3 separate regions of the Homo sapiens genome follow, and all the other regions are linked to region 3. The links come from fine-mapping of genetic effects on gene expression. A gene starts in region 3. Each other region holds a variant in brackets. All regions are shown on one strand. Distances are from middle to middle.

Region 1 (10,936 bases), 110 kb before region 3:
CAGAGGACATTTCTGGGTGGACATTCCCAGGACCCCGGGTAAGGGAAAAGCAGGGAAAGGTTCTGCCGTCTCTGAACTTGGTCATTCAACCTTCCTTCATGAGAGATTGCTTGGTCCATTTAGATGAGGTTGTCTGCCTCTGTGCAAAGGCGGTCATCCTCCTAATGACAGCACAAGGGAGGAGGAGAGGCAGGAGGGCCAGGAGATGGCTGCATGAGCTCCCATGGCTGTGATGGGCAGGTGTTTCCCCTAGGGCACAGGGCCAATGCCAGACAACCCTGTGACTCAGGGATGTGAGTCCTCCGACTAGTTGCCTCTTGTAGCTGGACCGTGCTGTTCTACCAGGAGCTGTGGGTCAGAAATCAGCTGGCCCAGGTTCTGATCCCAGCTCTGTCACCACCCGGATAATTATCACCTTTGAGTGAGCCATTTCACTTCTCTGAGCTTCAGTTTCCTCCTTAGTAAATGAGGATATTAGACTAGGCAAATTAAAAATTTCTAGTAATCTGATTCTTCCCTCAGGACTTTATTTTCATGTATCTTTCAGTTAATTTTAGTAGCAATTTTTCTTCTTCTTCCTCTTCCTCTTCTTCTTCTTCTTCTTCTTCTTCCTCTTCCTCTACTTCTTTTTTCTTTTTTTGACATGCTTTTGCTTTGTTGCCCAGGCTGGAGTGCAGTTGTGAGATCTCAGCTCACTACAACGTGTCCCCCTCCTGGGCTCAAGTGATCCTCCCACCCCAGCCTCCTGAGTTGCTGGGACGACAGGCATGCCACCATGCTCGGCTAATTTTTGTTTGTTTGTTTGTTTGTTTAGTAGAGACAGGGCCTCCCTATATTGCCCAAGCTGGTCTTGAACTCCTGGGCTCAAGCAATCTGCCCGCCTCAGCCTCCCAAAGTGCTGGGACTACAGGCATGAGGCACCATGCCTGGCTGATTTTAGTAGTAATTTTCAAACAGGGCTCCAGGAGGTGATTCAGAAGTTCTGCAAAGAATAAAGTATTCACCAATAAGTAAGGAACCCATTAAGAATATCTATTTATATATTATTATTTGAAATGAGATTTTACTTGAAAAAAGTGTGCTATTTCTATTCCATTTGAAAACCATGCAGTAGGCAACTCAAAGACAAGAAGAGCTTTTAAGACCTAATTGAATGACTTTATAATGCAGGAATTTCAGGCCAAGCGGGATGTATAGGGGAGGTCTCTCCCTTAAGGGACCCGCAATCTTGCTGCCTCCTGCACATCTCCTGCTCATCTAGAGGTCAGACCTCCAGTCCCCATATGCCTCAGTGGCCACCATTCCCCAGCAAGAGGCTTTCCACAAGCACAGGGCCTTGTGTTAATGGGAGTTACTGGCTGAACAGCAAGTTTGTCACCCCTGAGGGCTGTGGCTCTGCTACGCTTTTCTGGCACTTCAGTTGACACACATCTCTTCAAGAACATCTTATGAGAAGAGAAATACTATCACATTAAATGTTACATGTCAGTTGTGAGATGCATCCCAATTTCAGAAAATTAAAATGTGAGGAAAGATGAGTCATAGAACTCAAAAGCTGAGAAACAGCTTTCTTTGCTGAAGTCCCTGCTTTGCTATAAGAGAGACCAGGGACCATTATCTTTGTCATTTTTTCCCTGCACCCAGTCGTAAATCTGAGCCTGTTCCAGCAGCTCACAGCCTCTCACAATGTTCTTTGTGTTGGGGTGGGGTTGCTTGCTGGTAGAATGCTGCAAATTAGCTGTGCCACTCGATTAAGGGAAACTTTGCTCACAATGGTGCTTTGTGACATTTTCATCCCACTCCAGGTGAAGAAATTGACCTGCATTAATATGATGACTGTTTTTAGCACATGACTCTTTTCTTGTGCAAAGAACAGGAGCTCACGGTGGCTCCTTTGAACAGCCAGGAGTGATATTTCCACTCCTGCAATCAGTCAATCCAATACTCGAGGGTGGGAGGCACAGTCAGTTAATATTTACTTTCTACCTATCCCTGTGTTTACCTCCACAGAGCAGCCTCTGTAACAGGTGATTGATTCCTATCAGAGAAGAAAACAAGAAGAAAACGGTGGAAGAACTGAAGAGACATAGCCAGTGTTGATGAATATTTCCCTCCCTACTCCTAAACCTTCCATTTATTACCTCCACTGCAAAAACAGGCCTGAATAGTTTGAGGATTTTGTCTGGAATAAAAAAAGAAGATGCAACTCAAAATGGTTAAAATCATCAAGAAACAGGGGGATTCTGTATCTGGCTAATTTGGAGGCTCACCGATGATATCAAGCACACAGATTTCTTGTTGTTGTTTGAGACAGGGTCTCTTTCTATCGCCCAGGCTGGAGTGCAGTGGCGTGATCATAGCTCATGGCTGTCTCTATCTCCAGGCTCAAGTCTTCCTCCCACCTCAGCCAATGGCATAGCTGGGACTACAGGCACACACCATCATGCTCAGCTAATTTTTTAAATTATTATTTTTAGTAGAGATGAGGTCTCACTATGTTGCCTAGGCTGGTCTCAGACTCCTGGGTTCAAGTGATGCTCCTGCATCAGCCTCCCAAAGTGCTGGGATTACAGGTGTAAGCCACCATGCCTGGCCCTCAGATTGATTTAATCTTTCTCCTCCTCAGTCATCTTTAGCATTTCGAATATCATGCAGTAGAAAACTCTCAAAGACAAGATGAGCTTCCCTCTTAATCCCAATAAACTGCAGGATCAGCAGGCGTCATATCTTGAGAGAAGCAGAAAAGGGACCAACTTTTCCTTGAGTCTCTTTTACAGAGCTGAGAAGATTTTTTCCAGAATTTCATCCTTCCAGAGTATCCTCACTCACCAGAATTGGGTCACATGTTTATCAGTGAACAATCACTTCAGGAGGACATGACTACTGTAATTGGCTTAGGTCAGCTAAGATTCATCAGATCACACAGAGTAAAGGGAGACCTGAACAACATAGAGGCATGAGAAGGGGAACTGTCTGGTTATCAATTTCCAGTGCCTGCTACAAAGAGCTAGAGCCAACGTAATATCCCAAAATTCAGACACTGGCCTGGTTCCTGAAAGGACGTATTGCAAGTAGTTATACAAGTCTTGGCCTTTCTGCCCTCGTTGTGGTCAAATCTCCTGGGATCAAAGGAATTCCTCTGGAGACACCAGAGGTGCTGTGGGATAACCAGATGTTGTGCTGTCCTAAAAGACTCTGTCAGGGAGGCATCTCCTCTAACCCCCATATCCATCCTTCACCCTTTTTTCATTTTTCTAAAACACAGATCTGAGCAGATCACTCTCCTACTCAAAAAAATCAGGTAGCATTCCAACCTGTGCCCAAGCCAACTTCTCTTCATATTCCATATATTTTATATGTGAGTGACTGGGAATGTGTGTTACTTTTCAGTTTCCTTTGTCTTTGCTGTATCTTGAATTCCCTTCCCTACTTGCCTGCCTGATAAAATCCTACTCATCCTTCAAGACTCAAATAAAATGTCAAAAGTAACCGGCATCCCCTAATTTCCCCTTCATTTGCATCTCCACAACGATTGTTACCATGACTTTTAAGTCATTCCATTGCTATTACAGCCTCCTGACAAGTCTCTCTGCCTTTTCTTGCCTCCCTCCAATTCTAAGGCCACATGTCAGAATGATATTTCTAAAGCAATAATATAATCATGTCACTCTCTTGCTAATATCCTTTATTGGCTACCTACAGTGCACAGAATGCAGGTCTGTAACATGCTTCATCAAAGCCATGTTGATTAGGGTACCCTTTCACCTTATACTGGATGTTCTGTCGCAATGAACTATCTATAGTTTATGATTACAGTTTGTTCTTTCTCACTTCCAAGATTGTTGCAAATTATGTTGCCTATGCCTGAAATGCTTTCCCTCACCACCCCTGCAGCCTTCAGGTCTTAGCTGCCTGGTTTTATTCTTCTAAGTTTTGGTTAGTGCTCGCCTGTATGTTTTCAGAGCCCCATGGGTTTGCTCTAACATAACATCTAAGCTGCTGAGATTTCACAGATTTTCTGAGGTTCCCTCAGGACAAGGGCTGCTTTTTGTATATAGTTGTAATTCTGGCACAAAGAAAAGATTCAAATGTTTGTAAAAGACGATATTTGAGTTGATTCTTGTAGGATAAGTTGGAGCAACATAGGCCTTAAAAATACTGATTCTTTCACCCCTGTGCAATATTGATTAAGGCTCAGGCACAGTGGTGAAAACTGTTACAGCCCAATGAGTTCTTCTTGCCTGCTGTCCAGAAAAACCAATGCACTGAGAACAGCAGGTGTTGCAGCAAAGAGAGTTTAATAATCACAGGCTAGTCTAGTAGAAGGACAGGAGATAATTCTCAAATCCACCTCTCTGAGAATTCAAGGCTAGGGTTTTTCAATGACAGTTTGGTGGGCAGGTGGCTAGGGAATGAAGAATTCTTATTTGTTGGGTTGGAGATGACATCAAAGGGGGTCAAAACTGTCCACCTGAGCTGAGTCAGTTCTTGGGTGGAGGTCACAAGACCAGTTAAGTCAGTTTCTTGGGATGGGTTACTGGGTCTGGATGGTTCCAGCTGGTCCATCAGAATGCAAGGTCTGAAAAATACCTCAAACACCAGTCTTTGGTTTTACAATTATGATGCTATCTATAGGCGCAGTTGGGGAGGTTATAAATCTTATGACCTCCAGCCACATGATGCTGGAAACATAACTCTACCCTTGTGGCAAATTTGTTAATTTTACAAAGGCAGTTCTAGTTCCTGAGCAAGAAGGGGGTTCATTTTAGGAAGAGATGCTTATCGTTGTTTTAAACTATGAACTAAACTTTTCCCATAGTTAGCTTGGCTTATATCCAGGAATGAACATAGATGGTTAGCTTGTGAGGTTAGAAGGAAGACAGAGTCAGCTATGAAGATTTCTCTCACTGTCATACTTTTTGCAAGGGCAGTTTCAAAACTACAAGCCTTAACTTTTTCATGGAACTATCATTTTTAAAAGTTTCTAAAACTTTCAGCATTTGTGGACCATTTACTCTGTGTCCAAATTGCACAAATCACCAATAAATGCAAACATTTTCAAAAGATTCCTCACAATTTAAGAAATAAAACTAAATTATAATATGTTAATTTTTCATTGTTATTATTATTAATAGTTCCATATTGGTAAGAAGGATCATACTTTTTTTACCGTCTTTCATGGAAGGATCCACAGATAATTTGAGCCATTGGCCAGGTTTCTCTTTGTTCTATTAAATTACAACTGTTTTAACTCACAATGAAAATTTTGGGAGATAGTTAACAAGGTGGATCTTTCCAATGCTTCTGAGCAAATTATGGTGAGACTGCAGTAAGATGTCTCTCTCCATTCCGTTACAAAACTAGGCACTTGAGTTTGGATGTTTCAATTTGAGAGACAGTAGTGGATGAATTATTAAATCCAATCTGGGTGAGTTCAGCTTCACAAAGTACTTCATGTTTTTTTGT[A/G]GGCATGTTCTTAAATTTTTAAATATGTTCATTATGTAGGATCAGTTTATTTCCCCTGTGAGTGAAGAAAATCATCTAGGATTGAAAAAAATTGAAATGCACAGCAACCAAATCATCTGTGTCATAATTCAGTCTTTTAAAAGAAATCTTGATATCTCATCCTTAACATTAAAAAATCATTATATTTCAGCCCTGAAGTGATAGTTTTATGCTATTCAATATGTTGATAATATCATGCATATAATACTGAACAAGTCACTTGAAGTTAGAACTACCCTTTACTAGAGTAAGCATACATCCCTGGGACAGTCCCAGTTTATGTCTATTATCCCAATAAAATTAATAAAAGTGCCCCTTCTTACTCGCTGAAGTGTCCTTGATCAGACAATAAATCAGACAGTCTTCTCAATGCTTCCTGGCATTAACAGTATTATGTAATGTAGAAGTGTTTCTATATATGATTTCATATGAGTATTTTGAATAAAATTGAATTTCTATATATGGTCTCATGTGGGTATTTTTTCCTATGACAGTGTGAGAAGTAGAATTTTTTAAGTCATTGCCCATTTTCCCCCACATAGCATGCTAAATAGTTTTATTGTTGGTGGATATAATTTGATCATATTTATAATTTCCATTATTTGGTTCAACATCAAATCAAGACCAGGGATGACAGTATTGAATGCCAATGAATTCTGTAAATAAAAGAATGTGAGGCTAGGTAGTCAGGAAAAAATTCTTTTACTCTCATAAAAACCTCCTTCCTAGATGTCCACATCTGTCAACAGTGACCCAAGTTCATATCACCTCTCACAAAGGAGCTTTCAAATAATGAACACCTGCTCTTTAATAACATGAGAGTAGTGGAACTAATGCCATCAAGTGCTTCTTGTTCATGGATGAATAGGACGTGTGCCAAGGTGGATACTCTCAGCTTATCAGAGGTTCCATCCAACTGAAAAGAACACACATATACACACATGCATGCACACAACGTGAATGTGTGACAGTGAGTCCACATTATATGCTGTTGTCATTATGTGACTCCAGTGGTTCCATATGATAAGGGATTACCTAATATTTCATTCTGTTTCCTCTCAAGCACTGTATTTTAGTATCTATAGAAGTTTTATAAACTTCTTATCAACAGTGTGGCCTGTGTCTAACTTTGCAGTAAGAAATAAAACTGAATGATGTCTTAGTAATATTGGTCTCTGCCTTTAGTGACAAAATACATTGGTTCCCTCCTGAAATACATTATTCAGGGATTGTGCTAGAAAAATTTCATTAGTTTACTAGAGAGGTTACTCTTCTTTATTTGTAAATTTTGGGAAGTTTGGCTGGCTTCACACAACTGTTTGACAAAATTTCAGAACAGTGTATCAAGGAATAGGGATAAATAGATTATTAGTTCAGGAATATTCAATTTAATGGTTTTATCACTGGGCATACTTTCTTTCTGCATTTTCTTTTTTATGTTGCATGTATGAAATTATCCCATCTGCAGATCACCTTGAACCAGAGCATATAGATTCACATTCTATAGTTGCACAGAATTTCTAATCACCACTTACAATTATGACATTTTTCTGAGTTATTGTATTTATTATACTTTGTATCAATATTTTTCACTTCAGAAAGCCATTTTGAGCCTGTAGTCCATTTTTATTAGTTGGAGAAATAATAGAACTAATAATGTTAGATATAAGCTGACTTTTCTGGTAAAGCACAGTAGAAGCTTTAAGAATGAATTGGTTGTTAAGACTGTAACAGCCTTTCTATGAAAGTCATGATTTTACACTTCAGATGTGAGAGGCACATTGAACAAAAGAAAGGCTCATTGCTCTTTCTTGTAAATCTGCCAGGGGCTAGCAGTGTTCTGAGAGCACATTTTTAGAAAAGTGCCTCAAAGGGTAGGTCCACCTGTTGCCTTCATATTGATCTCTGGTCAACAGAAGGGCATAGTTTTCTCCTAAAACTACAGGACTGAAAGTCATTCTCCTGGGTGTAATGCCAAAATATCACTTTAGCACAGAGAAAATCATGTTCTCAAATGTGCTCCAGAAAAGATGTTCGTACAAGTTTCCTTGGTTACAATAGTGGTGCTTCCCAGTCCTTATGGCCTGAAAGCTCTCTCCACATTGCAAGAATGCAGAATGCTCTATCAAACAATGATATTAGTCTTTAGTAGCAATCAGAAACATTATAAAGCTTAGAACTCTAGGAGTATTTTGGCTACAAAATAATGACACTGGCCTCACAAAGCAATACATGAAAACCAATTTTGTTAAATTAATCTGTTTGTTTATTCATTCATGTAGTGATCCTTCAATTAACATTTATTGAATGATTATTTACTGAAACTTACTACAACTTCTGCCTTTATCCTCCCCACTCCACCCTATTTACCCCATTAATTAAATTTTTGTACCAGGTTCTGAGTCTCAGCTTTTAATGATTTTTTCTAAATTGAGGTGTAACTTACAGTGTTTGTACAGATTTTAAGTGTACTGTTCAAGTGGTTTTGACAAGTGTATTAAGAAGCAGAACAGTTCTATAAAATAAGTTTTAAATTGCAATTATAATAATTTAATATAACGATGGCTTTTGGATCATTTAACACCTATTTGGGCATATATTTTGATCTCTTAAACAGCATATTAGACATAGCTGAAGAGAGAATTACTGAACTAGAAGATAGATTTGAAAAAAATTACATAGGATATAGCATATATGCAAAGAAAAGAAACAGATAATATAAAAGACAAACTAAAAGATATAGAGGTTGTGTATTCAGAATATACTCAGGACTCTTACAACTCAATAATAAAAAGAATAACTCAATTTTAAAATGGGCAAGGGATTTAAACAGATATTTTCCCAAGAGACATACAAACGGCCAATAGGTGGGATTTGAACAGACATTTTTCCAAAAGAGATACACAACTGGCCAAAAACCTACATGAAAACATGTTCAACATTATTTAGTCATTAGAGAAATATACATTATACTCATAATAAGATACAACTCACTCTCCCACCACCACACACTAGGATGGCTATAATAAAAAAAAAAGTAGAAACAATAAGCATTAAGGAAGATGTAAGAATCTGGAACCCTCATACATTGCTGGTGGGAATGAAAATGATGTACTACAGTGAAAAAGAGTTTGACAGTTCCTCAAAAAGCTAAACATAGAGTTACCATAAACTCTTTATATAAACTTCTAGGTATATATCCAGGAAAAGTGAAAATATAAGTGCTCAAAAAAAAGTATACATGACAGTTTATAGTGGCATTATACATAATAGCAAAAAGTAGAAACAACCTAAGTGTCCATCACTGATAAATGGATAAACAAGATGTCACGTATCCACACAATGGAATATTATTCAGACATGAAAAGGAATGAAGTGCTGATACATGCTACAATATGGGTAAACCTCAAAAATATACTAAGTGAAAGAATACAATCACAAAAGATCACATATTACATGGTTCCATTTATAGAAAATATTCAGAATAGGCAAAGCTATAGAGTTAGAAAGTAGATTAGTGGCTGCCTAGAGCTGTACTAGGGGTAGGGAGTAAGGAGGAAAGGAGAATGACTGCCAATGAGTACAGGATTTCTTTTTGGGGTAATACAAATGTTCTATAATTAGATTGTGATGATAGTTGTACAACTCTGTGAATATATTTTTAAAAATCACCAAATTGTGATGGATGGAATGGATGGGTGGGTGGAATTTATATATTTCAATAAAACTGTTTTAAAAATATGACAGACAAGATTTAAAAAAAAAAAAGGAAATGATCACTTTCCTCACGCAATGTAAGAAACCATATCTTAGTTAAAATCCCCAAATTGCAAACAATAAAGGAAATGATTAATAAAATTAACTACACTGATAAATCTAACCGCCCTAAATTAAGATCTTCTGCTTATTGAAAGACATCTTAAAGAAAGTAAAAAGACGTGTCTGTTCATGTCCTTCGCCCACTTTTTGATGGGGTTGTTTGTTTTTTTCGTGTAAATTTGTTTGAGTTCATTGTAGATTCTGGATATTAGCCTTTTGTCAGATGAGTAGGTTGCGAAAATTTTCTCCCATTTTGTAGGTTGCCTGTTCACTCTGATGGTAGTTTCTTTTGCTGTGCAGAAGCTCTTTAGTTTAATGAGATCCCATTTGTCAATTTTGTCTTTTGTTGCCATTGCTTTTGGTGTTTCAGACATGAAGTCCTTGCCCATGCCTATGTCCTGAATGGTAATGCCTAGGTTTTCTTCTAGGGTTTTTATGGTTTTAGATCTAACATTTAAATCTTTAATCCATCTTGAATTGATTTTTGTATAAGGTGTAAGGAAGGGATCCAGTTTCAGCTTTCTACATATGGCTAGCCAGTTTTCCCAGCACCATTTATTAAATAGGGAATCCTTTCCCCATTGCTTGTTTTTGTCAGGTTTGTCAAAGATCAGATAGTTGTAGATATGTGGTGTTATTTCTGAGGGCTCTGTTCTGTTCCATTGATCTATATCTCTGTTTTGGTACCAGTACCATGCTGTTTTGGTTACTGTAGCCTTGTAGTATAGTTTGAAGTCAGATAGTGTGATGCCTCCAGCTTTGTTCTTTTGGCTTAGGATTGACTTGGCGATGCGGGCTCTTTTTTGGTTCCATATGAACTTGAAAGTAGTTTTTTCCAATTCTGTGAAGAAAGGCATTGGTAGCTTGATGGGGATGGCATTGAATCTGTAAATAACCTTGGACAGTATGGCCATTTTCACGATATTGATTCTTCCTACCCATGAGCATGGAATGTTCTTCCATTTGTTTGTATCCTCTTTTATTTCCTTGAGCAGTGGTTTGTAGTTCTCCTTGAAGAGGTCCTTCACATCCCTTGTAGGTTGGATTCCTAGGTATTTTATTCTCTTTGAAGCAATTGTGAATGGGAGTTCACTCATGATTTGGCTCTCTGTTTGTCTGCTGTTGGTGTATAAGAATGCTTGTGATTTTTTTTACATTGATTTTGTATCCTGAGACTTTGCTGAAGTTGCTTATCAGCTTAAGGAGATTTTGGGCTGAGATGATGGGGTTTTCTAGATATACAATCATGTCGTCTGCAAACAGGGACAATTTGACTTCCTCTTTTCCTAATTGAATACCCTTTATTTCCTTCTCCTGCCTGATTGCCCTGGCCAGAACTTCCAACACTATGTTGAATAGGAGTGGTGAGAGAGGGCATCCCTGTCTTGTGCCAGTTTTCAAAGGGAATGCTTCCAGTTTTTGCCCATTCAGTATGATATTGGCTGTGGGTTTGTCATAGATAGTTCTTATTATTTTGAAATATGTCCCATCAATACCTAATTTATTGAGAGTTTTTAGCATGAAGGGTTGTTGAATTTTGTCAAAGGCCTTTTCTGCATCTATTGAGATAATCATGTGGTTTTTGTCTTTGGTTCTGTTTATATGCTGGATT
Region 2 (10,936 bases), 140 kb before region 3:
TTTGAGACCAGCCTTGGCAACATAGAAAGACCTCATCTCTACCAAAAATTTAAAACTTAGCTGGTGTAGCAGTATGCACCTGTAGCCCTAGCTACTTGTGAGGCTAGGTGGAAGGATTGCTTGAGGCCAGGAGTTCAAGGTCACAGTTAGCTATGATCACGCCACTGCACTCTAGCCTGGGCAACAGAGTGAGTCCTTGTCTCTATTTTTTTAAAAAAAATAATAATTATACATATTTTGAGACAGGTTCTGGCTCTGTCACCCAGGCTAGAGTGCAGTGGCATGATCTTGGCTCACTACAACATCTGCCTCCCAGGCTCAAGCCATCCTCCCACCTCCACCTCCCAGGTAGCTGGGGCCACAGGCACATGCCACCATATCCGGCTAATTTTTGCAATGTTATAAAGATGGGATCTCACTTTGTTGCCCAGGCTGGTCTCAAACTCCTGAGCTCAAGCGATTCACCTGCTTCAACCTCCCAAAGTGCTGGGATTACAGGTGTGAGCCACCATGCCCAGCCTAAAAATAATAATTAAAAAAAATAAATTTTAAAAATTCAAAAATCTAAATCAGATTATGTTACTCATCTGCTCAAAACCTTTTCATGGCTTCCCAATGTCCAAAGTTTTTATTTTGACCTGCAGAGCTCATTAGGGATCTCGGCTATTTTTTCTGACCCCATCTCCTTCCATTCACCCCTTTGCTCCCTTTATCCTTCTACACAGGCCTCTGCTATTTCTGCCAAACCCACTCCTGTCTCAGGGCCTTGAGTTTGGTGTTCCCTGTGCACTGGAGTCTCTTTCTCTGGATAACCACAGGCTTCTCTCAGATCTCTGTGAAAGTGGCACCTCCTCCTCCTGGCCACTCTAACTGAAATGCACCCTTTGCTAGTTTCTACCCCCTTATTTGGTTTCATTGTTCTCATGTCACATAGCACCTACCTGAGATGTTATATGTAATAACTGGTATAACCTCTGCAGAATCTTGTAGAATATTCATAGAATATCAAAGTCCTGAGTGCAGGGACTTGGTTTTGCATTTGCTTGTATCCTCCGTGCCTAGAACAATGCCTTGCCATAAATAGGTGATGATTATAATATGTCCCATTGGATAGAATTATGTGGAGGCAATAAACAAAATCCATGTCAACCAAAACCCAAAAAAGAAATAAAATAATTTTTATATTGTCTTTGTCGTGTGCTTTGCACACCAAATTCTGCCCTGGGAGTAGCAGTTTAGTCACTTCGGTTCACCAATATCAACACAGAGTTTTCATTATCAAGATGTCTGAATTCTAGCGCAAACCTCATAACACAATGAAAACCTTTTAAGACCAAAATGGCAATTTGATGGGAAAACTATTTTCAATCTCCTTAGTTTTTGAACTAGAACATACTAGCACTTCTCTTGGGAGCTCCATAGTGAGGTCTGATGCACTTCTTAATGGCTAAGAGAGAGGAAATTGGAGAACCCTGGCGATGAAGATATCAGCTGGGACAATGGGGAATTGAAGGTCAGTTTTGTACGCACTTCTTGCAAGCACTATAACTTAAATTCAAGCCTCCTAAGCAGTGACAGGGGAATAAAACCCAGGGCTGAATGATTGATTTTGTTGTCCTTACTTCAGTACTACATATCAAGTATATTTTTTAGTGGAAAGCTTTTGGTATACCTATTAGTATGGCAGGCTTTTACCCTCGACTCGAGAACTTGTGAGAAAATGCTTGAGGCTGGTGCAAAGAGTGCTAAGGGGATGTACTATATGATCTTTATCATAATGCAATAAGAAAAGAATTGAGTACTCTTTGTTGTAAAAGAAGAGAATTTGCTTTGAACACATCAGACTTGAGAAATTGAACGGGCAAAGGAGCCTGGCAGCTCAACTTTTATGGGATTTTTTTTCCTTTAAAATATTAGAATCTCTTATATAACTCATGGACTATTTTTCTGAGTAGCACTTGAATGTGAGAAGAGTCCTTTAGAATAATCTCTGTGGAATAAATTTTGTGTCAGCATCTTTTTTTTTTTTTTTTTTTCTGCATGGCATGGTGGGCTTTTAAAGACCGTTTTAAAAAAACTTCTCTTTCCTCTCAAAGACATACGCATTAGAAAAAAGTTGCTTCATACTGCCTGGAAACCAATTAAAATGGAAAATGCTAACTTGTCTAAGTCTCTGTTTTCTCACCTTTAAAGTGGGGCTGGTATTTCCACCGTTTAAGGATATAGTGAGGATTAAATGAGACAATACAGCCACAGCTCTAACCTCAGAGCTTTGCAAGTAGCCGACCTCCTATATATTATCCTTCTTGTTGTTACATTGTTATAAGAAGGAAGTAAAGAGCTCAATTTATAGCCTTAACAACAATTTAGGGAAGAAGTAGTTCCAAAGACATGAAAGTCCAAAGAAAAAGCTAACTGGTGGTGATTTCATAAAAATTTGCACAACTTTCAGGTTCAACTCAATAGAGTATCATTGTCCTCCTTCTATTATTCAGTAGCTAAATATGGTGTTCTCAAATCAAAGGGAAGTAATTGGCATTCATTTTAATTTTTAAGCTTTACTTTTTAAAAATTGGCTATACAAGTTGGGCATGGTGGCATATGCCTGTAGTCCTAGATACTTGGGAGGCTGAGGTGGGAGGATCACTTGAACCCAGGAGTTCAAGTCTAGCTTGGGCAACATAGTGAGACCTTCATCTCTAACGAAATAAAATAATAGGGGTTATACATTACATGGTTCAAAATTCAAAAGATCCACAGGGTGTGAAGCAATGTCTCCCTTCCACCCCAGCCTACCCAGATATAGTCTAGTTACATACAAAGACTTGTGCATACTTTTCCCTTTACACAAATGGGAACACATAGCACTTGCTGTTCTGCACCTTCATTTTTTCACTTAACAAATTACATTAACAATAATTCTCATTTTGTAATGGTTGCATACAATTCTTTGTATAGATGAACATAATTTGTAAGCCTGTTAATGAACATCAGGTTGTTTCAATCCTTTCCTGTTATAAACCACATTGCAATGAATAATCTTGTGCACACGTCATATCTCACAAGTGCAAATATATACTTGAAGGATAAAATTATAGAAGGGTAATTTTGATAGGAATTGGCAAATTTCCCTCTAACGCAGTTGCGTCAATCTTTTACTCTCACCAGCAACGAATGAGCAAGGCTTTTTCCCCACACCCTTGCCAACACAGCGTGATGCCAAATGGTTTTTCTCTCGGCTATTTTGACAGATGAAGTTTTATTTTGCATTTCCTATGAGCCCATTTGAACATCTACAAAATATGTTTAAGGGCCATTTGTATTTCCTTTCCTGTGAACGGTGGATTTCTCTCCTTTGCCCATTTCTCTATTGGCTACTGGTACAGTGGGATATTAAAGGTTAGAGTGCATTGGATAGTAGAAAGGCATAAGTCTTAAAGTTGATGGACTAATATTTAAATTCTGGTTTGATCTTTTATAGGTTATGTAAATACTTTTTGAGCTTCAGTTTCCTCATCTCTAAACTTATGATAACAATCTCTTTTTCACACAGCTCTAGGGAAGATTAAAAGAGATAATTTACGTAACATACTTAGTACAATATCTAAACCCTTAGTGGGGGCTCCTTCCATAATCCACGGTTTTATAAAGATTGCAGCAAACGTTTTTCATACTTTTAAGGAGTCACATATAATTTCACAAAAAAAGAAGAAAAAAGATATGAAGAAGAAAGAATAGTGAGTGGAAAGAGAAGCCATGTTTTATCTTTAAAAGCTCATGGGTGTTAACTTTTATTATAAAATTTTTCACACTTAGGTATTTTCAATCCTTTTTAATCTGTTGCCCAGCATGCTTCTAAAGCCACTTCTTCCTCTGAAGGTGATTAGGGAATACAGGCTAATTTTAATATTAGCATAAGTAACACATAATTAGGGAAGTAAATCTTCTGTGCCCAGATGCCCATTATGCATTACAAAGTCAATATGTAATATGGCTTTAAAAAGTCATTTGCTGCTTGGCATTATTTGGGGGTTTATCAGGGCTTTGCATAGAGCCTTACAGTCAGCTCACAATAGTGTTTGCTAAACTGACTTGGTCCCTTGTTTCTTTTTGCTGGTAGGATAGCAAAAATGCCATCTTCTAGACTCTTCCTTGGGCAGGTGGGTGCCATTTCTCTTTGAATCACTAGTGCCTAGCTCAGTGTGAGGGACATAGTAAAGGCTGAATCAAACTGAATCCTGAGGTGAGACATGGGCTTTTCAAATTCCATATGAATCAAGGTTAAGCCCCCAAAGCATTCTGAGTGTCACCGACTTTCCAAAAGGACACTGATGTACTCACTCTTTTGCTCTATATGCATTTATTTTGCCAGAACTATCTATAGAGACAGGATTTTCAACTTCTTTTTAAGTTCACAACATACTATTTTTACTGTCTTTCAAATTTCCTCTTTCTGATTCATCAAATGTGATATGCTATATATTCATTTGAAATAAAATTAATTGTAAATCAGTTTTGTGAGTTCCTTAATATCTCATGAGATAAATGGAGAGACTGTAAAGTGTTATGAAACCAGGATGGAAAATTTAGTCTGCATATTCCAGGATGTGCTATTTCAATAGCTTCATAAATGAGGGAATGCTGAAGATAACTTTCTCATGTTTTTTCTCTTTCTAACCATTTAATAGTTGGTTGCTCTCTTCTCTATAGGCCTAGGATGCAGTTTACTGAGAGTAAACATGGCACATGCTTCAGCATAGAGTTTCCAAGCAAAGGATGACAGATTCTCACAAGCCTCACTTTTACTTGACGAAATGGAAGGGTAGGATCTCTGTATTTCATTTCTGAGAAAGCACACAGATTACTGCAACTGTCTACCTTTTGGCTTCCGGCAATTTGTCTCCTTTGCCTATGAAGAACCACCTACTCTCTTTGTGTGCTTAAAAAGTCACTTGAAGATCCCTATCCTTTTGCTCATCACCAGTGCCCCCATGCCAACTCTGCGTGGGGATTGCAGAGTCTCCACTTAGTGACAGTCATATTCATCTTTCCAAAGTCTGGGAAGACTGCAGAAAGGGACACACCAATATATTCCTATGTTTCAATGCACTTTAGCCTTAGGGATTTTTGTCAAACATGGCAGGAAGGCCAAATGTGTATAAAACATCACTGCAAGGGCTCTGAGCCTGGAGATATACCCTAAAAGTGCCTGGTGAGATTACTGACAGTCCCTGTGGGTCCAAAGAATTGCTGTTCACTTGTCGGACCCTACTGTCTTCTTATTCCCTCCTCCAGGTTATCCCTTTCCATTGTCATTGATATCTTTGTCAGGGAATGTGCGATAGAGCAAGCAAAGGCAACACATCCTGATTAGCTCTATCACTTGCTAATAGATGTGGTAGAGCAGGTAAATTTCATAGGCAGAATCTAGTTTGTGGTTCAGCAACAAGATCCACCTGTTCCTGAGACCTGTAACCATAAGTAGTTGAGAG[T/A]TAACAACATGCAAATTTTTGCTTCAAGAAGAAACTAGTTAGGCTTCAGGGCTTGAACATACCCTTAGGGATAGGAACTGGATAACTTAGCAGAAACTCACACAAGTAAGAGCCTGCTAAGAGTGGGAGGGTGACTCAGCAGTGGCCCAGGAAGCTAAACAGCAAAGACTTGCTGATTAGTCTCAGAGAAGCTGATCTGAAAGAATATGAGAAGCTACAGGGACTGAGGTTAGGAATGAGGTGGTTCAGGTTGACACGCTGCTTTAATCACCAGATGCTCCATTATTTCCATCCTGCTAATTGTAGTTTCAAAATTAGCAACAACTCCCCCACAATAATTAGGGTTTATAAGTGCATGTGCCCACATTTCAGGATTACGCATGTAGTGTTCAAGTGTTATACAGCTAAAATTATTGTGTGTATTTGTGTAACTTGTTCGCTGAATAAGTGAATTAAGTAGGATACAATCAAGAAACAGCTCTGTTTCTCCTACCACTGCCTATAAACACACTTGGTCGGACCTCTATTCAAAGCCCCTTGAATGCATCTAGGGTAGAAACATAGTTCTTTGGTCTTTTATCACCTTACTAAATTCTTTCATTATTTATAATAGTTTTTCAATAGTGTCTCATATTTTCCATGTATTCGTCAGATCAAATGAAAATAGTTTGCAAAAGTTTTCTCCCATCTGTAGGCTGTCTGTGCACTCTGTCCCTAGTTTCATCTGGTGCAATGTACTTTATTCTTTTACTTCTCAAACTGTTTTCTTTTCTCTGTTGTAAAGCCACCCCACATTTTAGGGTTTTGTTATGGTAGCACCCCACTTTTGGTGCCAAAATAATTATTAGTTGTCCATATACAACAAGTTATCCTAAAATTTAAATGTTTAAAACAATCAATATTTACGAATGCACTCAATTTCTATGAGTCGGGAACCCAGGAGCAGATCACTTTGGAGGTTCTGTCTCCATGTCTGTATGAGGTTACAGTCAAGGTGTTGGTCAGGGTTGCAGTCATGTGTAAACTTGTCTGAGGTGGGAGGATCCTCTTACATGATGAAAAACTCAAGTACTTGGCAAATTCGTGCTGGTTCTTGGCAGGAGGCCTCAACTCCTCATTATGTGGACCTCTCTATAGGGATGTGATCATGAACATGGCAGCTGGCTTTTCCCATAGAGAATAGTCCAAAAAAGAGCAAGGTGGAAGCTGTAGTGTCTTTCATGCTACCATTTCTTGCATCTTATTGGTTACTTAGGTTAGCTGTATTCATTGTAAGAGGCTATAGCACAAGGTCATGATTACCAGGAGGCAATAATCATTGGAGGCCATACTAGAGATACATAATTATGGCAGATACCTAAAATAATGTGTTTGAAAGATCTTTAATGATTGGTTAAATGAAAGAAAAGATTCAAAACTGTTAAAGCAGTATAATCTAAAAGTTATTAAAAATAACGTTTTAATGTTGTCTGAAAGTATGTGTGCATGCAGAAAAGATAGACCAAAAGGGAAACAAAAATGTTAGCATGACTTTTTTCTGAGAGGATGATGAAAGTTTAGGTTTTCCCATTTTTCTCAATGTGTGTGTGTGTGTGTGTGTGTGTGTGTCTATTTTCAAAGTTTTCTAGAGTATAAATGAATAGCTTTATAATTAATAAACATGAATTTTGAGGGCACAATTAGAAAAATTATTTTAAAATTTTGCTTATTTTCTTGAAGACACAATTTATATTATTTCCCTTTAGTTTGAAAGTTAAAGTAAACTTTCGATACCCAGTAAAAATCTAATCACAATTTTAAATGCTAGGAGCTGTTAACTCTTAATTTGGCAGTTGATGACTTATTTCATCTTTTAAGATAATCATCTGCCAAGTTTTAAATTAATATTTGTAGTAGCACAGATGGAATATGTGTGCATGCATAAATGAGTGTGTTCAATGAGAGAGGGAGAAAAGGACTCCTTTAAATATTCTTCCAGAGAATTATTGCTTAGTAATAGCCTTTGGGCTATTTAATATTCAATACTAACTAAGAATCGCAAACTTTCAAATTTCCTCCTTTACTCAAACCCTTGCCTTCATAATTTTTCCAAAAAGATGAAATTTAAAGAAGAAATATAAAACATTCCCATGAGATTGTTTGAAACAGAAAGACAAAGCAAAGTTTAGTTGAGCTGGATCTGAAACTTCCAAAAATGTACCAAGGTTGAGATTCTTTGAAGCTCTTTCTGAAAATTAATGCAGAAGTTATTCTTTCCTTTGGATGTGAAAACCGTCTATGTTTATGAAGTTATTTAATGCACAACTCAGGATCCTAGAAATCTTTCCAATTACATCTCCATCCACTCAGATCAGAGCCACTGTGTTTCACTGCTCATAGGAGCCCAACTGAGTGTTACTGGGGCTGAAGTCCAGTTTTACATACTTTTCCAGACATTAACTATGAGAGGAAATCTGTTTTTTCCCCCTCCTAATTCATAAATTGTCTTCAGATGGACTAGGAGTGAATTTTATCACTCCTTTGCATTTTGAACCCTAGGAAATCCTAGCCATTTTGTCTGCTGTTTTGATTTTCCACTCATTATCTTTCAATTATTGCTGGGGTATTTCTGTGTTTTATACATTGCTTTCTCAGCTCCTTGTAAGTTCCTCAAGGTCAAGGACCATGCCTTACATTTCTCATTTCCTATGGGTGGCTACCAACATAGCAAATGGCAAACTCTAGCCATGATCAAAAGGCATTTAATTAATTGTTAGACACCTGAAACTTAAGTCTCTAATGTATTTATATCCCCGTACTTTGTGCTATTTTTGTTGTATATTTTCCATCTACGCAAATTGCAAATTCCAAATATAATTTTTTTACCTTAAAGGGCCAACTATCTTTAATATAATTAAAAAAGGAAAAAATGATAACCTTTTATATCTACCGAAAAAATGGTAACTTTTTATATCTACCAATGTATTTACATTTTTGGTACTTTTCATTACTTCTATAAATTTGAGTTGCCATGTGACATTTTCTTTCAGCCTGAGGAATTTTCTCTAACTACATTTCTTATAATTGATGTTTGGGGGTAATAACTTCTCTTAGTTTTCATATATTGACAATATCTATTTCACCCTCATTTTTGGAGTATATTTTGGCTGTATATATAGTTCAAGATTGACTTTTTCCCCCTTTAGCACTTTAAACAAATCTTTTAATTGTCTTCTGGCTTCCATTATTTCTGATTAGAGGTTACATATCATTTTCTTTTTTTTTTTTTAGAAAGAGTCTCATTTTGTCACCCAGGCTGGAGTGCAGTGCAGTGGCACGGTCTCAGCTCACTGCAACCTCTGCCTCCCAGTTCAAGTGATTCTCCCACCTCAGCCTCCTGAGTAGCTAGGATTACAGGTGTGAGCCACCATGCCCACCAATTTTTTTTGTATTTTTGGTAGAGATGGGGTTTCACCATGTTGGCCAGGCTGGTCTTGAACTCCTGACCTTAAGTGATCCGCCTGTCTTGGCCTCCCAAAGTGCTGGGATTACAGGCGTGAGCCACTGTCCCTGGCCCATGTATCATTCTTATAGTTGCTCCTCTGTAACATCATTTTTTTTCCTAACTGATTTAAAGATTTTATCTTCAATTTTCAGGCAGTTTGACTATAGTGTGCCCACATGTGGTTTTCTTTGTATTTATCCTGCTAGTGATTTGTTGAGCTTCTTGAATCTGTGGGTGGATGTTTTTCACAAAATGTGGAACATGTTTGGCCATTATTTCTTCTAATTTTTTTCTACTTTATTCTCTTTCTCCTCATCATCTAAGACTCCAACTGCACGTACATTAGACAACTTGATCTTGTCTCATACCTTCCCTGTCTATGGCACAGGATATTTGTGATGTTAATAGAATGTGAAAAATCATTTTGAAGGTTTATACTTTAGCCTCAATAATATGAATTTTAAAAAGGAGTCTGTAGTAGTACTATCAGAGTTATTACAAGGATGAAATGATTTATGAAAGAAGCATTAAGGAGTACCTGACATATACTAAATACTCAATAAATTATTATTATTATCTGTATCAGTTAGCTATTGCTGCATAATAAATCACCTCACATAATAATTGTGGTGGAAAGCAATTGTTTCTTACAAGTCTACAGGTTATCTGGCAGCTCTTCTGATCAGAGATGGGTTCATCTGTTCTCATTCACATGTGTGGGGATCATCTGGCTATTATGTAATCTATGATGGCCTCCACTGGGATGGTTGGGTCTGCCACATGCGTTTCATCCCCCAGCTGCCTAGTTCTCATGATGATGACAGAGCACAAGAGAGGAAGTGGAGACATTTGGAGATTTTAAAAAAATTCTTTCTTTTTTTAATTGACAAAATTATATATATATATATTTATGGTATACACATATGATATTTTGATATATGTACACATTTCAGAATGGCTAACTCAAGCTAATTAATATATACATTACCTTATACCCTTATCATTTTTTATAGTGGGAACAATTAAATCTACTCTCAGCAATTGTAAGTATACAATACATTGTTATTAACTATAGTAATCATGCTGTACAATGGATCTCTTGAACTTATTCCTTTTGTCTGTCTAATTTTGTGTCCTTTGACCAGCATTTCCCCAGTCTTTTCCACTTCAGCCTCTAGACCCTGGTAACCATCATTCTATTCTCTGCCTCCCTGAGTTCAACTTTTTTATTACACATAACAGGGGGAATAAAAATGTCCCTGGAAGAATGTAGTTAAAAGATAAAAATACAATATAAATATACATATTATTTCTCAATATAAACTCCATCAAGTTCAAAATACTTTTGTAAACAATGATACTAGCCTATCCCTAAAGAACTCAGGGCCTTGGGAATTTAATCATGTCAATGCAGTCTCTTTTTTTACATCATTAACTGAGAAAAAAAATGGGTGCCATTTACACATTTTTTAATATTAGGAAACAAAAAGAAGTCAGGAGGAACCAAATCAGAACTGTAAGGTGGATGCCTAAAATTGCCCTTGGTTGATGAGAAGAAGGAGCAGGAGCATTATCATGTAGAGAAAGAGTATCTGGTGAAGCTTTCTCGGGCATTTTTCTGCTAATAGCATTGGTTAACTTTCTCAAAACACTCTCATAATAAGTAGATGTTATTATTTTTTCTGGCTGTCCAGAAAGCCAACAAGCAAAATGCCTTGAACATCCCAAAAAACTGTTGCCATGACCTTTGCTTCTGACCAGTTCACTTTTGCTCTGACTGAACTTCTTCCACCTCTTGGTAGCCATCGCTGTGATTGTACTTTGTCTTCAGGATTGTACTGGTAAGGCCGTGTTGCATCTCCTGTTACACTTCTTTGAAGAAATGCTTCAGGATCTTGCTCCTACTTGTTTAAGATTTCCATTGAAAGCTCTGCTCTTGTCTGCAGCTAATCTGAGAGCA
Region 3 (10,936 bases):
TACTGTTTTTCTCTGTTTAGGCTTCCTTCCTCTTTCTGCAGAGGATGAGGGAGAGTCTTGGCTTCCTCCTGGAAATGCGGACCCACCCCCAGCTTTCGGGTAAACATTGCCTGCACTTCAGCTGGGCGCAGGGTTCCCTTTGTTACTGAGACAGACTCTCAGGTTGGCCCAGCCTGAATCTACCGGGACCCCATCAACTGTGAAGTACAAACCTCGCTGGAGGTGGGAGAGCACCTTGTGGTTGAGAAGGTCTGAGAAAGGGGTGGGTGTGATCTGTCAGACACCCTAAAATGTTTCCCTGTATTGTTTGAGACAGAAACAGCTAGGGAAGAGAGGGGGTGGTGGGTGTGGGGAATAGAAAAAACGTGGTACTAAGAGAAATGCAGAAATGCTGGTGGTGATTCAAGAGGAGAAAATCAATAAAGGCTTGGGGCAGAACCTCAAAAGGTGTTTAAGTCAGGATACTTTCAGTTGTATGAAACGGAAAACCCCTGTCAAAGTATCTTAACCAAGAAATTTGTCTCATCTGACAGGAAGTCGTGAGTAAGGCCACCTTCAAGGTTGGTTAAGTCAGCCATACAACAAAGGCTGGAAGGCCCTGGTTCTTTTTATCCTTCCACTCTGCCATCCTTGGTGTGGTCTTTGTCATCAGGCTGTAGAGGATCGAGGCATCACATCCAAACCCAACCAAGTCCAAGGGCGAAAGAGACCATTTCTTAGATGCAAGGAAACCTCTAGCAGATTCTTCTCATGGCTTGTTGACCAGAATTGGGCCACCTGCCCATTCCTGAACCACACATTAGCAAGAGGAATGGGACTGCCAGATGTGACGCAGAGGGCCAGTCTTCCCAGAGCATGTGGCTGCTTTAAGAGGGGGACGCTGAACACAGCTGCTAGGGTTCTGAGAGGAAGGCGGCAGGAGGGGTGTGGAGGCAACCAGCAGGGCGGCTACAGAGAAGCAAAAGAAAAACAGAGAGGAGCAGAGAGGCAGACAATGACAGAGCCCAAGAGGAGGGAGGCAGGAAGGTGGGCAGGAACAATAAAGCACAGGTGGAGACAGACAAGCTCGTTAAGTTTGGTGTCTTAGGTTAAAACGCTGTTGTCATATCTTGCTCCTCAGCCAGGCAACTATTAGAAGAACACGCTTTACCTGTTTTCACTGCCACTTGAAGAGCTGATTAACTTGTCAGTAGTTAAACTTATTAACCATTTTTCAACCTCAGAGTTATAAGGGAGGTGGCCTTAGCAGTATTCAGACAGAAAATTTTTCTCCTTTTCTCCTTAAAATAGATCAGCATTTATTGAGTTGTGAAGGAGTTGCGTGAAATAAATATGATTACTTAGTTACTTTCTTACATCTTTATGTATAATTTTATCTTCTTAATTGTAAAAGCAATTTAACCACACTTAAAAATTGCAAACCAGAAACATGAAAACAAAATCACCCAGCCTTATAACTGTTCTTATTTGGCAAAAATTAACTCCTAACTTTTTTTCATACAACTGCATACCGTTTTGTAGACTGCTTTATTTTTCAAAACGTGTATCATATACATGGTACAAATTTCAAAAACAGACTAAAGGGGTTATTTAAAAATAAAACATGTCTCCTTCCTATCAGTATCTTTAGTCCCCCAGTTTGCCCCCCATTCCACCCTAACTCGCTGTTACCAGTTTATTTCGTTTTCTTCCATAGATAGCCTACCCATTAACAAGGAAATATGTGTATGGATATTCTTTTGCCAACAGAGCTTATCTTTTCACAAAATGATAGCCTACTGTGTACACTGTTTTTGTTCCTTGTTTTTAAAATTTAACAATATTACTTGGAGATAATTCCATATATAGTGCCTTTAAAATTTAACATTATAATGTATCCATATATTGCCACATACTCTATAAGCAGTATCTTCAAGAGCTGTAAAAACTGTGAGCAAATGACTCATTCATTCCTTTAATAAATATTTATCAAGCACCTGCCATATCTGCAGAGCTCTGGTGATTCTAAGATTACCAAGGGTTAGGTCACACCCTAGAAGGAGTCACAGCAGATTGAGGAGACAGGTAGGTAAACAAGTTCTTACAGGCAGCCTTTAAGTGCCGGGATGGAAGAACACAGCGGGTGTTGAGGGAATAAAGAAGGAGCCTCCGAGACATTGAACAAAAGTAGTGAAGAATAAGAGAAATCAGCTCACAGACAAGAGACAAGGAGAATGCCCCAGGCAGAAACTCTAAATGACATGTGCAGAGGCACAGAATGTGAAGGAACATTGTGGTCCAAGTAACTACAAGGAATTGGATATCACCCCTACTCTTTGATCTTTAATTTCTGGCCAAGTCTTCAATATAAATAATGCTATGATATACATCTTGCAGTGTATAACTTTTTCCATCTGCTGGGGTATTTCTTTGGGTAGATTCCCAGAAGAGGGACTGCTGAGTCAAAATGTAGGAGCACTCTGACCTGATATATACAGCCAAAATGCTTTCCAAATGGACATATTATTTCATAAGGACACCAACAATGTATGTGCTAACCAGTGCTCATTATTTTTGTATCTTTATTAGTTTTAATGTATACTTCATTTATTACTAGATTAATTTCCCCATATATTTTATTTCTTATATGATTTATTTTCTGTTTATACTCAACCACTGCGATTCTATATTTTACTATAGCTCTATGAGCCCTACTTATAATATAGACATTCAGGTTTTTATTTTTCATGTTTGCTGCCAATTTTTTTTCTGGTTTAGCTTACACTAAAAAAAGCTGGACACGTAGAAGTGTTTAAGATATTACCCAATCATATCCATTGATTATTTCCTTCTATTGCCTCTAAGTTGAGAAATACTTCTATACAGAGGTTTGACAAATATTTTTCCTTCTGGTCTGCTTTAAAATATATTTAACTCCTTAATCCTCATAGAACTTATTTTGGATATACGAAATGAGATAATTCAATTAGTTTTTCCACCCCCCCCTCCAAATTACTGATTAGTTATCTTACCTTTCCCTTCTCCATTGATTTTTCTTTTTAAGACTTTATTTTCTTAGCAGTTTTAGTTTCACAGCAAAATTGAAAGAAAGACTGCATACTGTATGATTCCTTATATATGGCATTCCGGAAAAGGCAAAACTAAGGAGACAGGGATACAGTCAAACTTCAGTGGCTGCCAGAGACTGGGGGGAGGAAGGGATAAATAGGTGGTGTACAGAGGACTTTTAGGGCAGTGAAAATACTCTGTATGATACTATGATACTATGAGGGTGGGTTCATGTTATTCTATATTTGTCCAACCCTATAGAATATACAGCCCCAAGAGTGAACCCTAATGTAAACTATGGACTTTGGGTGATAATGATCTGGCAATGTAGGTTCACTATTTGTAGCAAATGTGCTACTTTGGTTGGGGATGTTGACAATGGGGGAGGGTGTGGGGTCGGGTATATGGGATATCCACTGATTTTTATTTCAAAGATAAATCCACTTAGAGATCAACTCAGTCATCAATTGCATCTAATTTCTGGTCCTTTTGAAATGTGTCACATCAGCTTAGGACAGACCTTTCTTCTGACTCATCCAGTATTCCTGCAGCGACTGTTCTATTTATATACAGAATTACAACATAGCTCCAATAGGCTTAGGTAAAGCTTGTCAGTACCTTCCTGTTAACAAGGAAATCTGCTGCTGAAAGACCTTACTTTTGAAGTCTACCAGATTGGTGGTAGTATGGCCTGTGTTTTGAGTGGGTAGAGAGCACTTTTGAGGGAGTGAGGATTATTTCATCCAAAGGGCTGAAGCTACTGTTATCCCGTGTCATAGCTTCTGAGGTACTGAATGAGTAGGATCTCCTGGCCCTCCCATCTCTGTGGGTACCTCGTTCATACTTGCGACCTCAATATAGCCTCAATCCTGCTGAAGCCCAGTACTATCTCTAAATGTGGTTTATTGCAGGAAAAAGTAGCTTCTTGACTAGCCAAAACTTGACTGCCGGTTGTCAACTAGCCAGTTTTTGAGAAAAGTGAGAGGTTGTTACGTAGGAAACCTTATAACTAGAGGCTCTCAAACTCAAGTATTTAAGTATCATCTTTTAGATTTCTGTGTCCAGGATCGGGTTGCACTGGGTGGTGCTGGAAAAATTTTTTGATCTCACCTCCTTCTAGCCTTTTGAATCCTTAAAAATATTCCCATAGACATTTATACACAGTCCTGGGCGGTTCTTCCTTCTCCTTCCGTGAAATACTGGTACCTGCTTTGCCAACACCTATGAAAGTGCTCCAGGAGGAGGGCGGATAAGCAACTAATGAGCACACCTGCTCAGGTAGGGTTCTAAAACAATTTCCAGCCACCTGTTCTATTCTTCCCCAGAGTTCAAAAGCTTAATGGTTCGTGATCCAAAAACCCAATTCAGATTCCCCAGAAGACCTCCCTGGAATCCGTTGTGGATTCCTTCCTAGAGTTAGGAGGCAAGCAGGTTTCTTAGGCACTATTCTGTCGGGGTAGGGGGGAGCGTGCGCTGTCCGGGTTTGTGTGGTTGCAATAGACCCTAGGGCGAGGATCGCATCCCGGGCCAGGACTCCCTTGAGCCATCTCTTTTTCCTCGTCCCCATTTCTAGGATAAAACCCATTTCTCCGGTAGGTGGGGAGGTTGGGTTAGAGTCACACAGGGATTCAGGAAGCTTTCCTTTTCAACGTCCCATCCCTTCATCCTTTCCTCCCACTTCCCGTGGCTCTTTTCTCCACCTTCCCCAACTACCCCCTTTTCCATTCAGCGAAGTCCACGACGACTTTCCTTCCCTGTCCAGTGGCATCGCATCTTCTCTAGCCACATAAGCCTGTTGTGGAGGAGGGGGCGCCAGTGTGGCTACCCTGGAAGGGGTGTCGGGGGTGGCTCGCAGGTCCTCACTCACCCAGCCCTCTCCCCGAGGAGCGACCCTCTCGCCCGCGTCCCTCCAGAGCTGCGCCGCTCATCAATCCCGGTCACTCTGCCAGCCTGCTCCCCGGGCGCCCTTCCTTCTCCCTCTCGCCTGCGGTCCTCCACCCTCCCACCCCCTACCTACCCCGCAGCGACGTTCGGGGTCAGCGGCGCTTGGGGTTGGCCCGAGAAGGGGCGGGGATAAAGCGAGCGGTGGAAGGAGGCGGCTACGTGGTGCCACCGCCGCCCGGGAGCGCCCGACCCCGTGCGCGCGCGCGCCTAGCCAAGGCTTGGGCGGCGGGCGGAGCTGCGGGCGGCGCGGGCGGAGGAGCAGCCGGCCGGGCGGGCGGAGCGAGAGGCGGGCGGAGCGAGGGGTGGGAGGGCGCGCGCGAACGGGCGGGCGAGCAAGCGAGCGGCGTCTCCACCAGCATCTGCCGCGGCCGCCTTTGCCCGAAGCCCGGGGACGAACCGACGGACCGACCGCCTGGCGCACGGACGCGGGCGCTCGCTTTGTGTTCGGGGCTAGCGTCGGCGAGGCTTGAGCTTGCAGCGCGCGGCTTCCCTGCTTTCTCGCGGCCACCCCGGCTCCGGCGGCCTCGGCGCGCGAGGGGCTGGAGGTGCGGGAGCCGCTCTCCGCCGGTCGGTCCCCGCGCGGCTGAGCCCAGGCCGCCAGCGCCGCGGCCCCGTGCGGTGTCCCTGAGCTCCTGCTCCCCGCCGGGCTGCTCCGAGCAACGGTGCTTCGGAGCTCCAAACTCGGGCTGCCGGGGCAAGTGTCTTCATGAACCCAGAGGATGTCCGGGAAGCACTACAAGGGTCCTGAAGTCAGTTGTTGCATCAAATACTTCATATTTGGCTTCAATGTCATATTTTGGGTAAGTTGGAGCGCTCCTGGGATTCCAACTATTGTGGCCGATCGATTCGCGACGATTTCCCCCACGTTGTTCGTTGCCTTTACTTTTCGCAGCCCCGCAGGCGCTTGCCGGAGCAGCATAGAGGCATTCGCCTTCCGCCTTTCCAGCTTGCGCGTTGGAGAGATAAACATTTAATCCTTTCGAGGAATGGGAAGAGGTGAAAAGAGAAATCGAGGCGGAAAGGGGGCACCGAGGCCTTCTGGTGGCTTTTTGAGGAACGAATAGCAGGGATGCAGATAAAAGAAAGGGTTCGGCAGTTTGAGAAATGAGCAACCACACGAATTGGATTTGCTCTCGGTGGGATATAGATGTTGGGCAGAGCGTGGTGTCATAATAGGGAAGGCTAATCGGGCACGGCCGACCCTGAGGTCCACCTTCTAACAACGATCTGATTGGACGAGGGCTTGGCTCCGTGTTGCCGCGGCTGGTCTGTGCCATGCTCAGCGTGTATCTTCTTGCACCATCTCGGGCTTTGTGTAGGATGCAGATGCCGTGGTATATGGTCCTGTAATTGCACGTAAATAACGTTTCCTGCACGCTCTCCTCTTCAGCTGGAAAGCGCTCCCTGTGCGTAATGGACTGGTCAGTGGGGGTGCGGGGTAGAGGGATTTATTTGTATGTATATATCATCGTCAGGATAATAAGTCACCGTCAACATATATTTCAGTGTGTTCCTGCCCCACGTCCTCATTTTTAAAGGAGTGACACAGAGCGGGCCGTTTGGGGGAACCTTTGTAGAAATGCAAAGGAGAAGGTGTGCGAGGCATGTTTTATTGGGGAACCGAGAGAGCAAATGCTTTAACACAAGATTCAAATGATGCTCTGCTTGGGACTGCAATGTGTTGGGAACCTATTGTAATTAGGCTGGGACGCCTACTCTTTTTGTTTGTTTGTTTGTTTTGATTCTTTTCCTTGATCTGGCAAACGTGTTCAGCAGCCAGACAAAGAGTTCTCCAGGACAAGGGGAAAACGTTGGTTCAAAGACCATGTTATTTTTCTTCCCCTTCTCATCCCATCTCATCCTCTTCCTCAGTGGGCACCCGCATTTCCATAGAAAGTAAAGATGGTGGCTGTCTGGGTAGGGGGTTCTCTAAGTTGCTGTTCAGTGTGAGGTAAACAATGCTCCAACTGCAGGATCAATAATTATCCACAGCAGTCTGAACACGGAATGTATTTATTTGAATTCTCCTTTAATTTGGGCTGTTTGCTGTACGTATATACATCTGTGAGAATAGTTGTCAATACGGCTCTTCATATTCTTTTTTTGTACCGCACTCTTACCAGGTTATTTTATTTTCTGTTTTCTATTATAATACCTTGCATTGGTCATGTATGTTTTGTGAGGGGAAATGCAAGGGATTGGAGACCACTTTCCGTGTCAGCATGTCATCTGTCTTCAGGACTAATAAAGATAATGAGGGGACACATGAATGGATGTCATATCCGATCATTCCACAGGCAGTTTTTTGCCAGTGTTGTGCATGATTCCCGGGAGCAGTCACCCACCTCCCTGCAATTAAACACTGCTACAAGTACAGGAAGAAGGAATTATTTTCTTTCTTTGCCCCTTCTCCATTTGTGAAAATGTTTAAAAGTGGTGGGTAGCCACGGTTTTGAGTAAGATATTCTGATTTGATTGGAACTTGAAACTTTGTGACTTGGAGAGGCACGGACTACCGAACTGGGACTGGTTCTTTTTGGGGTAGTGAGTTCAGGCCTCTTGTTTCTACTTGAACATTTCTAAAAGTTGCACATTTTAGCTACCCAGCAACAAAAAGCACCCAGGGACTTTCTCTGCCGTTTCCTAGCAGGGGGTGGTAAGGAAATAAAAGGATTTGGGTCTGTTTCCCTGACAGTTTGCTGTAATTCTGTGGAGTGCATAGAGACAAATTTAGCCCTTTCTATGGATTAGGTTGCAGCAAAACCCCTGGAATTGTAGAGAGCTTCAAAGAATTGCAGAGTGCTTGCTTGGAGAGGTCCAGAACAGAGCCGCATGTTTTCTGATTGTGAAGGTCTTCATAGGTGGGTGGGTGAGTATGGGAAGCCTGAAAGGAGACCTAGGCTATGGGACTAAACTAGCTGCCCCAGGCAGAATTGTTAAGTGAGTGCCTTCCTTATGAGGGCCCTTCACTTACCCTGCCTCTTGCCTTCCCTTCCTCTCCTCTCTGTGCCCAAAGCCTTCCTCTCAGATACTCCCTCATACCTTTCCTATCCTGCTCTCTGCCTCAAAATTACCCCATATTTAAATTTCCTGCTTTATTGTACCATGGTCTCTAGTGATGATCAACAGAAAGGCAACCATATGGTTTTGGTTAAAGTAATTCAGACTAAGATGTTAGTGACTGAAAAGCTGGGGTCAGTAGCTTGGCAGCTTGCTTCTGAAAAGTTACACACCTCTGCTCTCTACAGAGTCACCAACCTGTCTGTGATTGCCAAAAACAGCAGACTCGGTGCTACTCCCATACAATTATGAAGAAGAGATTGCCAACAGCATGGTTTCCTAATTTTCATTTTCACACTGAACTGCTAGACTACATTTGACATACACTGGTGACATTCAAAGGTATAGTTCTGGTAAAATAAAATTGAACATATGGTGGCACCAGCACTGAGAGCTTGGTTCTTTTCCTGATCAGCAGTTTGGCTCTTCATCAGTTAACTGCCTGGGCCTCAGTTTCTCAGCTGTTAAATTGAAGGAGGTGGATGAGTTATAACGTTCTTTCTAGTTCTTACACAGAATGAGTTTCTTGAGTTCCAATATGCTGGAGAAGAAAAATAGAAGAGTTTGGCCACTAATTTATAACAGAAGTAGTATATACCAGGACACGTGATAAATTATAGACATTTTCTGTTAGGGAGACTTGTCTGAAGACTAGTTTTATTACTTTCATTTCTTCCTCAAAGATCCTTTCATAAAAAACAAACAAACAAAAAACAAAAAACAAAAACAAAAAAAAACCAAGGCTGGGCGCGGTGGCTCACGCCTGCGATCCCAGCACTTTGGGAGGCTGAGGTGGACGGATCACAAGTTCAGGAAATCAAGACCATCCTGGCCAACATGGTGAAACTCTGTCCCTACTGAAATACAAAAAACTAGCCAGGTGTGTTGGCGGGTGCCTGTAGTCCCAGCTACTCGGGAGGCTGAGGCAGGGGAATCACTTGAACCCGGGAGGTGGAGATTGCAGTGAGGCAAGATCACACCACTGTACTCCAGCCTGGCAACAGAGCAAGACTCCGTCTCAAAAAAAACAAAACAAAGCAAAACAAAAAACCTTTCACTAATTTCTTCTTGGCTTGTTCAGTTCCTGGTATAGTGTCCGTGCTTCTCTCTCCCCACTGTGAATCTCAAATGTAGTCCTGTGAGTCATTAAATATATTTTTATTATTAGAATTACAGCTTCATGTATAAAATCTGAATCCTTTTATATAACAGTTGTAATGACATTCTGAGTAACAAAGTCAACATCTTGTACAGATTCCTTTCTCATTAGTTATCACAGGCTGGTGGGGGAAAACTTGTTTCCTCTGTTATATATTGGAACAATTCAAGACAGAAGGGAATTGATTTTATTGAGGGTGTCACCGTACTGGGACATTTCTCAGAAAACCCTGAGACTGCTTTGGGTTTGGGGGAGGGAGAAGAAAGAGGATTTTGTTTTAAAGTCATTTCTTTGGGGTACCGAACACCACATCCCATCACTCATCATTAATAGATGTTTTGCCCTTTTGGATTCTGGCTTTTAACTGTTTTGGATTCTGGATACTTAACTGTTCCCAGGCAAGTAAATTGATCTCAATATTCTGGTTATTTATTGCTACATAACCTCCAAGCTTAGTTGTTTAAAACACAGTTGTTTATTATTATAGTTCACAGTTCTGTGATTTGGCCAGGCTCATCTGGACAGTTCTCACTTGGGGTCTCATACAGTTGTGGTGAGATGTAGTTGGAGTTGGACTTACCGGAAGGCCCTCTGGGCAGGATGCCTGAGATGGTATACTCATATGACTGGAAGCTGATGCTTGCTGGGAGCTTAGCCAGAGTTGTCACTGGAGCACCTACCTACACGTGGCTTCTTCCTGTCTCTAAGTCTTAAAGAAGCTTCCAGCCAGTTAAGGTTCCACTTAGAACTGGCAGTGCCACTTTTATCTATTCCATTGGTTAGAGCACTCATGCAGACTGCTGAATTTCAAAGGGTGAAGAATTAGAAGCCACCTTTTGATGGAGAAGTGTCAAGGTCACATTGCAGAAAGTCATGTAGGTTGTGGCCATCTTTGAAAAATATAGTCTACTGTATTAAGGCACTGAGCCTTAATTTCTTGTTTATAAAGGAAAGATAACATTAATGGTGTTGTAGTTTTAAAGATTCAGTGAGATAATGTTTTATTCGGCATAATATCTCAATATTTAACAAATAGTGAATATCATTACTGTTGTTGTCTCCAGATTTTATACTGGTTCCATACAGGGCTATAGAACTTCTAGAATGCCTTAGTCTAGTACTTTGGCATCATTACTACTAGGTAATGATAATACCCTTAAGATCTGCCAAGAAGATGAGGCAAATGGATTCAATAGATTTTATAGTGACTTGTTAGGAAAGAACTCAATGGAAACGGTGGAATGATTTGGGAGAACCAAGTCATTTTTCTGTTTTCTTTGCTACAAAGGATTAGAAAAGCCTCAGTTACTTGAGGCCAACTTTCTCTTTTGATATGCTTTCAGATATTACCTTGTGTCTTTAAGTGCAAGTTTATCCAGGGTTGATGGCAGGATCTTGCCTCTAATTTGCTTCCACAGGGCTTAATTCAGAGAGGAGGGAGACTCAGGAAACCTTGGGGCGGTGGGGGAGGGGGGGCATCAAGTAGGAAGCTTTATCTTATGATTCACTATAAATTGCAAGATGTTCTGGAATGATGATACATCAGCAGTTTATAAGTCATAATTTTTGTTTTAATTTGCTAGACATCTGTTAGCTTCGATGGCAACCATATGGGAATCTAAATTGCGTTTTGAATTACAGGGAGATGGTAGGAAGAAAGCTAAATATGGTTATGAAAGTGTCATATGGGAAAAGTGTAAGAAAGGTATAAAGTGGGGAAAGTAA

Evidence for each region. PIP is the estimated chance that this variant, and not a neighbour inherited with it, causes the effect.
Region 1: its variant is fine-mapped to the expression of TSPAN5-DT in whole blood (TOPMed, PIP above 0.99).
Region 2: its variant is fine-mapped to the expression of TSPAN5-DT in whole blood (INTERVAL, PIP above 0.99).

Annotation. Positions count from the first base shown.
Region 1 is chr4:98,763,174-98,774,109 of GRCh38, reverse strand. No RefSeq gene overlaps it. Among named protein-coding and RNA genes, the nearest start is that of TSPAN5-DT, 110 kb to the right of the region's middle. The variant A/G (reference allele first, on the strand shown) is at 5,467.
Region 2 is chr4:98,789,462-98,800,397 of GRCh38, reverse strand. All of the region lies in intron 2 of LOC105377343 (a long non-coding RNA gene), which reads left to right. Among named protein-coding and RNA genes, the nearest start is that of EIF4E, 130 kb to the left of the region's middle. The variant T/A (reference allele first, on the strand shown) is at 5,493.
Region 3 is chr4:98,653,002-98,663,937 of GRCh38, reverse strand. It overlaps TSPAN5-DT (TSPAN5 divergent transcript), which reads right to left and starts at 5,036. Exons shown (of 3, transcript NR_148380.1): 1 at 4,916-5,036; 2 at 3,012-3,140; 3 at 1-948. TSPAN5 (tetraspanin 5) reads left to right here and starts at 5,327. Exons shown (of 8, transcript NM_005723.4): 1 at 5,327-5,792. The coding sequence starts at 5,712. It overlaps LOC112267901 (a long non-coding RNA gene), which reads right to left and starts at 5,215. Exons shown (of 3, transcript XR_939016.3): 1 at 5,066-5,215. RefSeq lists silencers at 5,170-5,349, 5,603-5,762 and an enhancer at 9,470-10,669.